Linked DNA regions of Homo sapiens: all the other regions are reported to be linked to region 1. Evidence: microRNA targets listed by miRTarBase, many of them from high-throughput screens and not tested one by one. Region 1 holds a microRNA gene; each other region holds the end of a gene's coding sequence.

What was found. The annotated mature microRNA hsa-let-7c-5p reads UGAGGUAGUAGGUUGUAUGGUU and lies in region 1 at 1,761-1,782, opposite strand. An mRNA with a match to its seed (bases 2 to 7 or 8) in the 3' UTR can be bound and repressed. Matches are read on the target gene's strand: a 7mer-m8 pairs with bases 2 to 8, a 7mer-A1 pairs with bases 2 to 7 and ends in A, and an 8mer does both.
Region 2: miRTarBase lists KCTD21 as a target of hsa-let-7c-5p. Seed matches in the 3' UTR shown: 7mer-m8 at 2,135-2,141 and 8mer at 86-93.
Region 3: miRTarBase lists CEP135 as a target of hsa-let-7c-5p. The part of its 3' UTR that is shown has no 7-base or 8-base seed match.

The regions. Positions count from the first base shown.
Region 1 is chr21:16,538,486-16,541,619 of GRCh38, reverse strand. It overlaps MIRLET7C (microRNA let-7c), which reads right to left and starts at 1,792; the gene lies at 1,709-1,792. The region is part of intron 6 of MIR99AHG (mir-99a-let-7c cluster host gene); the gene reads right to left. MIR99A (microRNA 99a) reads right to left here and starts at 2,531; the gene lies at 2,451-2,531.
Region 2 is chr11:78,171,228-78,174,361 of GRCh38, forward strand. It overlaps KCTD21 (potassium channel tetramerization domain containing 21), which reads right to left. Exons shown (of 2, transcript NM_001029859.3): 2 at 22-3,134. The coding sequence ends at 2,545. It overlaps KCTD21-AS1 (KCTD21 antisense RNA 1), which reads left to right. Exons shown (of 3, transcript NR_102281.1): 3 at 2,593-2,750. Among named protein-coding and RNA genes, the nearest start is that of KCTD21, 16 kb to the right of the region's middle. RefSeq lists an enhancer at 2,612-3,113.
Region 3 is chr4:56,024,298-56,027,431 of GRCh38, reverse strand. CEP135 (centrosomal protein 135) reads right to left here. Exons shown (of 26, transcript NM_025009.5): 25 at 2,818-2,931. The coding sequence ends at 2,829. Among named protein-coding and RNA genes, the nearest start is that of CRACD, 23 kb to the left of the region's middle.

The sequences.
Region 1 (3,134 bases):
GAGTCACTTTCCTTTTCATCTCTTCATGTCTTTTTGTTTGTTTGTTTTAGGTCTATGTCTACTGCCTCTTATTCATTGCTTCTTGATTAGTCCTTGCAAATATTTTTCTTTCACAGAGAGAAAGAGTCTTTACTACTGTAGACCAATCAAATTATTTTGCTTGAAGTGACTGGTATTCACTTTCTAAGGCTCACATGTTCTACGTGTTGGGGGTAGCCATTCCTTCTTCACTACATTGTTAGCAAGTTCTAGGTATTAAGATATTTTGGATGCCTGAGCATTCTAGAAAGGTCAGCACCACATAGCCAGTATCTTGAGGTCCTTAATATATATTTGCATCTAAACGTCTCTTTAATGAATTCCATGTTTCATATTTGGAGTCTTAAATTAAAGTTCTAACATCAACAACTACTTAATCCTGTGTCTGAAAGATGATCTATGTAAGATAGCCTCACTACACAAATTACACCACTAACAGCTGCTAAAGTTGACAGCAAACTAAGGTTCCAAAGAGTCCCATTTGCTTTGTAACACAAAGAATATTATAAAGTGCCTTTCCTTTAAACAAAAATGTGTTCACATTCTCAAATTATACTTTATATACATATTTATTATTAATTTATTGACATGTTTCTGGTTTAGTTGCTTCTGGTTTATTCAACAGATATAGCTGTACAAAAATAAAGGGCAGGAGACGAGGGAAATACACAAAAGACACAAATCTAATTTTTAAAAATCATATTGTTAAATGAGACTTAAAATAGAATATTTAGTTGAAATTGATGCTAAAAGAAAAACGATTCATCTGGAAAGAAAGGTATTTAAATTCAACAGAAATATGAATTATCTAAGTGTAGGATCATAAACTGTCATGAACTAATTAGTAAAAATGAATTTACTCTATTATTTTTATTCTAGATAAAAAGTACTTCTAAATTTTAACTTATCTGTTTAGAATGAATGAACACATTCAACACAGTCAAAAATCGACACATGTATTACTGATGCGGAGCAGTCCAGGAATTAAATTTAAACAGTTTTAGGAGCAATAAATAAAACTCAGATGTTTGACCACTGCCATAACTCATTCAAATATTCAATAGAAACTCATCACAGAGTGAGGTCTTACACTCCATTCACTAATCCAATAAATAGTTAGTGCTCATTATGAGTAAGGCATTGGAGGGGATACAGTGAAAAATAAAACATGGACTTTGCCCTCAAGGGGCTTACAGTCTAGTGCGGAAAAAATCAGCAAGCACATAAATAGCCATAACATAAGGTAGAAAGTGATGTGTCATAAGGAAAACGCAAATAATGTGCTATGGGAGCTATTAACTCTAGCAGACATTTTTTATTATAGTGTCTAAGCAGCCAATATAAATAGACCAATGATCCATTTGAAAATTAAGGTCTGAATTTTGTTAATCTATAGATGATAAAAAGCTTTAATATTAATGCAATTTAAGTCACTACCTACAATTTTCTTAAAATGTTTGAACATGGAGTGACAACCCATTAGAAATACCATTTTGACATTGTTCATAAGCAGATACAAATGGAATAATCTAATAGGGCTGAAATGATCATTTTAATGTAATAAAGGCCCAAATCAATGATCCAAGATACTCATGACACATTACCTTCTTGCACACAAATTGGCTCAATCAGGTTAAAGTGATGAAGAATTCCTCGACGGCTCAAGTGTGCTCCAAGGAAAGCTAGAAGGTTGTACAGTTAACTCCCAGGGTGTAACTCTAAACCATACAACCTACTACCTCAACCCGGATGCACACAGCTTCCAATGTTGCTTCAAACTCCTTATCATATCTTCAGTCAGCTCCTCCAAATATGGCAGCCATACACCTAAGGGCTTGGCAAGGATATAGATATAATATTCTAACATTTTACCAGTAAACTTTGCTGCTAACTGTTTCTCATAGGACTAACCTAAACACTTGGGTTTCCAGCATAGGTCACGTAAAATGTCTTCTGACCATCTAACCTGCCATAGTTCTAGTCGCAATTAATAGTAAAAGTCAATTGCATTCAGCCTCATTTTTTCAGGAGAAATAGGCTCAATAAAAACATATAAATCCAATGGTAGTCTTTAATTTTCTTACTGAAGTTGAAGAGGTACACTAAGCACTACAGTATGCACTGAAGTTTCTGAACAGAATCTATTCAGATCCTGGTCCAAACCCTGCTATAAAGGTTCAACTTTCTTATGCAATTTACTGTACATGGAATCGAACTTGAATGGGTGTGATATAAACGCTTCCAAGTTGTTGAGAATTGAAGCCTGCCTTGTAAGACAGACAATGATTAAAATAAACATTAAAAACAAAGGAAAATATAATGACTTCAAAAGTATATAATCAACTGGAGTTTAACAGGATTTTACTGAACTATTGTTGAACGGCACTGTGTATAGCATTTTGTCAGATTACCACACTGACACAGACCCATAGAAGCGAGCTTGTGCGGTCCACTTCACCACAAGATCGGATCTACGGGTTTATGCCAATGGGCAACATCTTGCATGGGCCCCCTATTAATATAGAATTTGTTGTAAATATCTGATGCAATTAAGAGTCAAAAATAATATTGATCCTTTAGTATAAATGTTTTAAATGCTGAGTTCTAAGGATGCATATTCTCCATTAAAGGCCTTCATAAATATTCAAAACTAAATACAAATTTATATGCATGAGAATTTAAAAAGTAGTTTATTGAAAAATTTTTCACGAACTGCTTTTGTTTCAATAGTAAATATTTTGGAATTAAACTATTCTAATTGAGTTTTAAAAGAAAAAAGAATCCATACATGCATGTATGAATTATATAATTGTGAGGCATGAATGTAGTATTACGAGCCTATAATTAAAACCAAATTAACTATTAAGTTAATTGTGTATGAGTTAGACCGTGCTTATTTTAATTTTTATAAAACTAGTTTAGTTACTGGTTTCAAGGAATTGGTAACATTATAACTTTCTCATAAAACAGTAAGATCTTGTTCACTAGCTAGAGAATACAGGAAGTTATTATCAGCCTTAAATATATACATCTGTGTCTATAGTCGGAATGGTGCTAAAATTTACAATATTTGGATGAGTTAATATAAAACTAAA
Region 2 (3,134 bases), not on the chromosome of region 1:
GCAGACACAAAAGAATAACAATCCTTTATCATTTATACTGTATTCTCACGTTACATTATTTCATTTGATCCTCACAACAGCCCTGTGAGGTAGGTAGGGTTATGTATTACTGTTATGCCTATTTCACAGATGAAGAAATGGAGGTGGCTCAGTGAGGTGAGTGACTTGCATAAAGTCACACAGCATGTTAGTGGCTTCACTGCTTCTGCAACTTCTCTAAAGTCAAGCTGCTTGGATTAGGGAGCACCGAAAAGATGGACAGTTTTATGGAAAAGGAGAAAGGGCAGTGGTGATTTGTAAGATTTCTTCCTCAAATTGTTTTGTTATGACCACAGCTTCTGCTACTTGGTCTAAACTAGGTTCTCCATGAGGGGCTCTCCCAAGTACCCTTGGCCTGGGACAGCTGTCTTTTTTTGGGATGGAGTCTCTCTGCAATGGCACACTCTCAGCTCACTGCAACCTCTGCTATCTGGGTTCAAGCGATTCTACTGCCTCAGCCTCCCAAATAGCTGGGGTTATAGGCGCCTGTCACCACACCCAGCTAATTTTTGTATTTTTAGCAGAGACGACGTTTCACCATGTTGGCCAGGCTGGTCTTGAACTCCTGACCTCAAGTGATCTTCCCGCCTCGGCCTCCCAGAGTGTTGGGATTACAGGCATGAGCCACTGTGCCTGGCAGAAAAGCTGTCAGAGAGACTCCTGGGTCCCACCGTAGGGGGAAAAGGGCCTTTACTGCTCAAGGGAACTGGCGCTGCCCATGGCCCAGTGTACAAGCTCCCTACTCACAGGGCCTATCTATGGGAAGCCCCTTTCTGGGCCCACCTCCCATGGGTGCCTGTGTCACCAGGCTTCCTTGGCTTTGAGGACCCCTGCCCAGTGGGGGAGGACCCTGGGGACTCTCAAGGCCAAACTCACTTTAGGGATGAATCATGACGTGCAGTTTGGAGGCCTGCATGGCTCATCACCCGGTGGGAAGCAGTGCTTGGGTTGCTTGCCCTGGATGGCACCCTACAGAGACCCAGGGGTGGGACACAGGACTGCAGGGGAAGGCCGCCTTCCTGAGGGCAGGGTCTTAGGGGCCGCACATTTACTCTAAGGGCACTGTTACGGTTCATACCACTCCTGGGCTCCTTGCTGCACAGCACCCTTGGAGACCGTCTCTTTCCTCTGGATCTCCTCAGGGGCCGTGAATCTTCCTCTTCCAGCAGAAAATGGTCGAAAGGTATATGGAGCCACAGATGGTGGGGAAGGTGGGTGAAGTGGGGGTCACAAACGAGGTGAAGCTACAACAAAAGGGGACTGACTTACAGGGGATAGAAAAGAGCTAACTTTGATTCTGAAGACAGATCCCAGAGGGGAATCTGAATTCTGAGTAATGATGTTTTCAGAAAAATGTCTGGTCTCTCAAGGTGACTATTTTGAAAGCAAAGATATATAACTGGGTGAATGGGAAGGTCTGCAACCAAGATCCAGCAAGTGGCAGGACAGATTTTGGCTCAATATAGGGAAGAACTGTCTAACAGTCAGCACTGTCCAACCACAGCAGGAGCTGCCTTGGGGATGGCGCGCTTCCTATCAGCCAAGGTATGCAAGCAGGCCAAGGTGATCACTTGCAGGTACCCAGGGAGAGGCGCTCATCTTCAGATGTGCTGGGGTGTTCTAGGGGTGGGGGAGGACTAAGCAATCATCGAATTATTTCCAACCCTGAGAATCCGTAATAGATTTGTTTAAAATGACCTGTTTCAATGATACCTCAAATTTTTGGGAAAACAATGACAAAAGTCAGGTAACAGGCTGGATTTGGAAGTGATTTCATTACACTGGCTACAGATACTTGCACATTTTTGCAAAGATAGCAGACCCTTTCTAAAGCCAGGAATCCCTTGATTCAGCCCTATCAAGAGGGACATTCCTACCTTCTGAACTCTGCCTGGACACTCATTCCTCTAGACCCTGCCACACCTCATCTCTGACCCCCAAGAGGGGACACTAACAGAGCTCTGAGAATGCACAGCATTCCAAGCCAGCCAAACATGGTCACCCCTGGGCAAACATCCACGATCATGGATGCACCCTGGGGAGGGAGGAGCAGGTGTGACAGGAACCGCTGGGGACTTTATGTCCTGGTTAACTGGAGGTAGCCTCTTGTTCTCATCCCATCCTCTCCACCAGGGCCTTCTTACAGATGGATAAATGCGGCACTGGCTAGCGGTACAGAGAGATGGAGCCCAGGAGAAAACTGCTGCTCTTTTGTCCTGGCTGGAAAATCCTCCTATGGCCTCCTTTAGTACACATCAGCTGACTCTTCACTTGTCATAATAAACCGCCTGTCTGCAGCTCAAAATGGCAAGAAAAAAGGTGGTTCTGTTCAGAGGACACTGGATTCCAAAAGGTGGACTTCATCATGGGGGGAATCAAGTCCTGCTACACAATTAATACAGATTAGTATAGTCCCCTGCCTCGCACCACTGGCGAGATGCCCTCCAAGACCTGGCTGACATGAGCTTCCTGGGACTCCCCATCTCCAGTGTTGTTGGGGTCCTTTTACCTGTACCGTATTAATCGAATAATCTTATTGTTCATAAAATCCAGAGCATGTGGGTGAGAAGAATCGATGCAGAAGCCATCGCTCAGAGCGATTTTCAGTACCTCTTCCACGAAGACCTGGAAGCTGTTGATCTGCTTGTTGGCGGGCACCACCCAGAGCCTCTTGAGGTTCTGCTTGGTGTACTCCTCCTCTGGCAGGCCCTCCACATTGGCCACCCAGTCCAGAGTCAGGTGGTTGGGGTCCTGCAAGTGGCTGGTGATGGAGGAGAGATTGCCATTGGAGCAGTAGAAGAGCTTAGAGCCAAGGAGCTTGAGGAAGAGGCAGGAGGTGCTGAAGATGTTGGCGTTGAAGACCTCCATGCTGGAAGAGGAGAGGCTGTAGATCTGGGGTGCCTCGCGCACAGTGAAGTGGACCGTCTGCACACGCTGGTTCAGTGTGATGTTGAGCATGGCATTCTTCTCGGCCTTGGAGAGCTCCACTTCCTTCTCCTGCAGGGCCTCAATCAGGGGCTGCACCTGGTAGAAGTCGGCCTCCCTGCGGAGCAGCCCCATCTCCTGGAAGTCCTCAGGCAGGTCAAGGTGGGAGG
Region 3 (3,134 bases), not on the chromosome of region 1:
GGACATGGGGTCTGTCAAAACTACTCAACTCTGCCACTGTAGTAAAGCAGTCTTAGACAATCTGTTAACAAATGGGTGTGGCTGTGCTCCAATAAAGCTTAATTTACACTAATAGGCAGTGGTATGGATTTGGCTTGCAGATCCTAGTTTACCAACCAACCCCTGATCTAAACTGCAGCTGTGAATCAAACATGAGAAAATGTCTGTGTCACATTCTTACAATCCTTTGTAACAAGAAGGTGAACCACCATCTGATCACATGAAAATAACACAGCAATTCAAGAAGGACACAGTGACTACAGTGAACACTGAGAAGTGGTCCTCAAAGTGAAAGAGAAAAATAAATGCCCTAATCAAACACAAAAGCAGAAGCAGAGCAATCAGGAATCATTTAAACCAAGGCCCTACAAACTTGAGGGCATCAGTACGTCAAAGAATAGCACATAACTAATGTTCACAATGAGGATTCTGAGTCAGAGGAAATGTTTAATTATCTTCTATATATTTCTATCAAAAGAGGCAAAGAAATGTATCAATTTAAACAAGACTGGCATAACTATTTCTGTCAATGAGTATGCATTTTCCACAGTCACTACCTGTCAAAGCCTGGGTCTGACTCATGTTTCTTTCCCACTCATTCCCATCTCCAGTGAATCAGCACATCCCTTTGATCCTTCCTCAGTCAAATGCATCCTGGCACTTTACAACTACTTTGGAAAACAGTTTACCATATCTCCTAGAGCTTGAACATACACATATCCAGTGATCCATCAATTTCACTTCTAAGTATAACCATAGCACTATTTGTAATAGCCCAAACTGGAAACTGCCAAGTGCTTATGAACAGAAGGAGGAGTAATTGGATTGTAGTAAGTTTCCATAATGGCATTCCATACACAGCAACAAGAGTGAACAATCTACAAGTACACACAACAATATGGATGGATCTCACAAATGTACTGTTGAGAAAAAGAAGCCAGGAACATGATTTCATTTATAAAATGTCTAAAAGTAAGCAAAAAGAAATCTACACTTTTAACAGTCAGGACAGTTACTTTTAGACCAGGGCTTATGACTGACGCCAAAGAGAAGTTAGTTTTGTTTTGTTTTTGTTTTGTTTTTTTGAGATGGGGTTTTGCTTTGTTGTCCAGACTGGATTTGAACTGGGCTCAAGTAGTCCTGCAACCTCAGTCTCCTGTGCCAGGCTTTATATTTTATTTTTTTGGATGGAGTCTCACTCTGTCACCCAAGCTGGAGTGCAGTGGCGCGATCTGGGCTCACTGCCACTTCTGCCTCCTGGGTTCAAGCAATTCTCCTGCCTCCGCATCCCAAGTAGCTAAGACTACAGGTGCGTGCCACCATGCCCAGCTAATTTTTCTGTTTTTAGTAGAGACGGGGTTTCACCATGTTGGCCAGGCTGGTCTTGAACTCCTGACCTCAAGTGATCCACCCGCCTCGGCCTCCCAAAGTGCTGGGATTACAGAGGTGTGAGCCACCGTGCCTGGCCTATTTTTTTTTTTTTTTGATTTTCATGCAGGTTACCTGGATGTGTTCAATTTGTTCATTGAAAAAATTCATTGAACTATGTATCTATGATATGGTACCTTTCTGTATATATTTCATGGTTTACTTTAAAAATTATGTCCTAGCTTTCAATGTTATTATACTAATCCTGAACTATTATACTGCTCATTTCATACCACTTACTGGTCTCTCTACCTCTAGTTCCTATCCTTTCCAATATGGTTCAAACACAGTTGTGAAATTAATCTACCAGAAACAGTTATTTCATCTTGACCCTTCCCTTGTACCCATCCTATACACAGGAGGACTGACGTTCACGTTCCTTTTGACTTACAGAATAAAGTCCACAATCTCTAATTTAGCTTCACATTCAATATAATACTCTATATATCCCACTCTACCTTCCAAACCTCTCTCCCTCATTATTCCCCCACAGCCTGCCCTTCCTGCCAGGTTACTACTGTACCATGTGTACTACTGTTTCTATGCTTTGTCTACATTTTTACTACCTATTATTTGTAGCCTGAATTTAGCCCTTCATCAAATAATATCCTGTGATAGCTCATATTGTCATTTAACGTTATGCTGTAGATGTCTTCTCTTTTTAAATTCAGGTATAATTTATATACGATAAAATGCATGGACCAGCCTGTAGTCCCAGCTACTCAAGAGGCTGAGGTGGGAGGACTGCTTGAGCCCAGGAGTTTGAGGCCAGCCCAGGCAAGATAGTGAGAACTCTTTGTTTTTTTGGAGATAGCTGCTTGCTTTGTCATGCATACTGGACTGTAATAGTGCAATCACAGTTCACTGCAGCCTCAACCTTCCGGGCTCAAGCCATCCCCCTGCCTCAGTATCCTCCCCCACCTCCCCAGCAGCTGGTACCTGGGACTACAGGTGTGTGCCACCATGCCTGGCTAATTTTTGTATTTTTTGTAGAGGTGGAGGTCTCACTGTGTTGCCCAGGCTTGTCTCAAACTCCTAGCCTTAGGTGATCCTCCAGCCTCAGCCTCCCCAAAGTGCTGGAATAACAGGTGTGGGCCACTGTGTCTGGCCGAGACCCCATCTCTTAAAAAAAAAAAAAAGCATACACTGTAAATGGTCAGTTTTATGAATTTTTACAATTGTATATACCCACATAACTACTATCACCAAGATATAGAACTTTTCCATTACTCCAGGAAGTTCTCCTGAACGCCTTACCAGGCAATCTCCCCTTTCCTGATGCAGAAAACTACTTTCTGAATTTTTACAACCACAGATTAGTTTTGCCTGTCCTTGGTGTTACATACATACCTTTCTGATAATTACACATTTCTATGTTCAGGAGAATGTGAAGGAGACCTCAGAGTGGAACTAAGGGGTGGTGTAGCAAGACCATGTCGACGCATCTCTTGGATTGCTCGTTCTCTGTTAGTAAAGATCAAACAAGAGAGATATATTCAAGCACCAGGGAAAATCAAAAAGTGGCAAACAAATATAAGAGTTATTAGCTAATTTGTAATAAATTACTTAGTATTACTATTAAATTTAAATCCTATGTCTTTGTACAATTTTTAAGTAGTGGATAAAATATTTCAATTAAAAAATTAAATATATATATATAGTGAGGA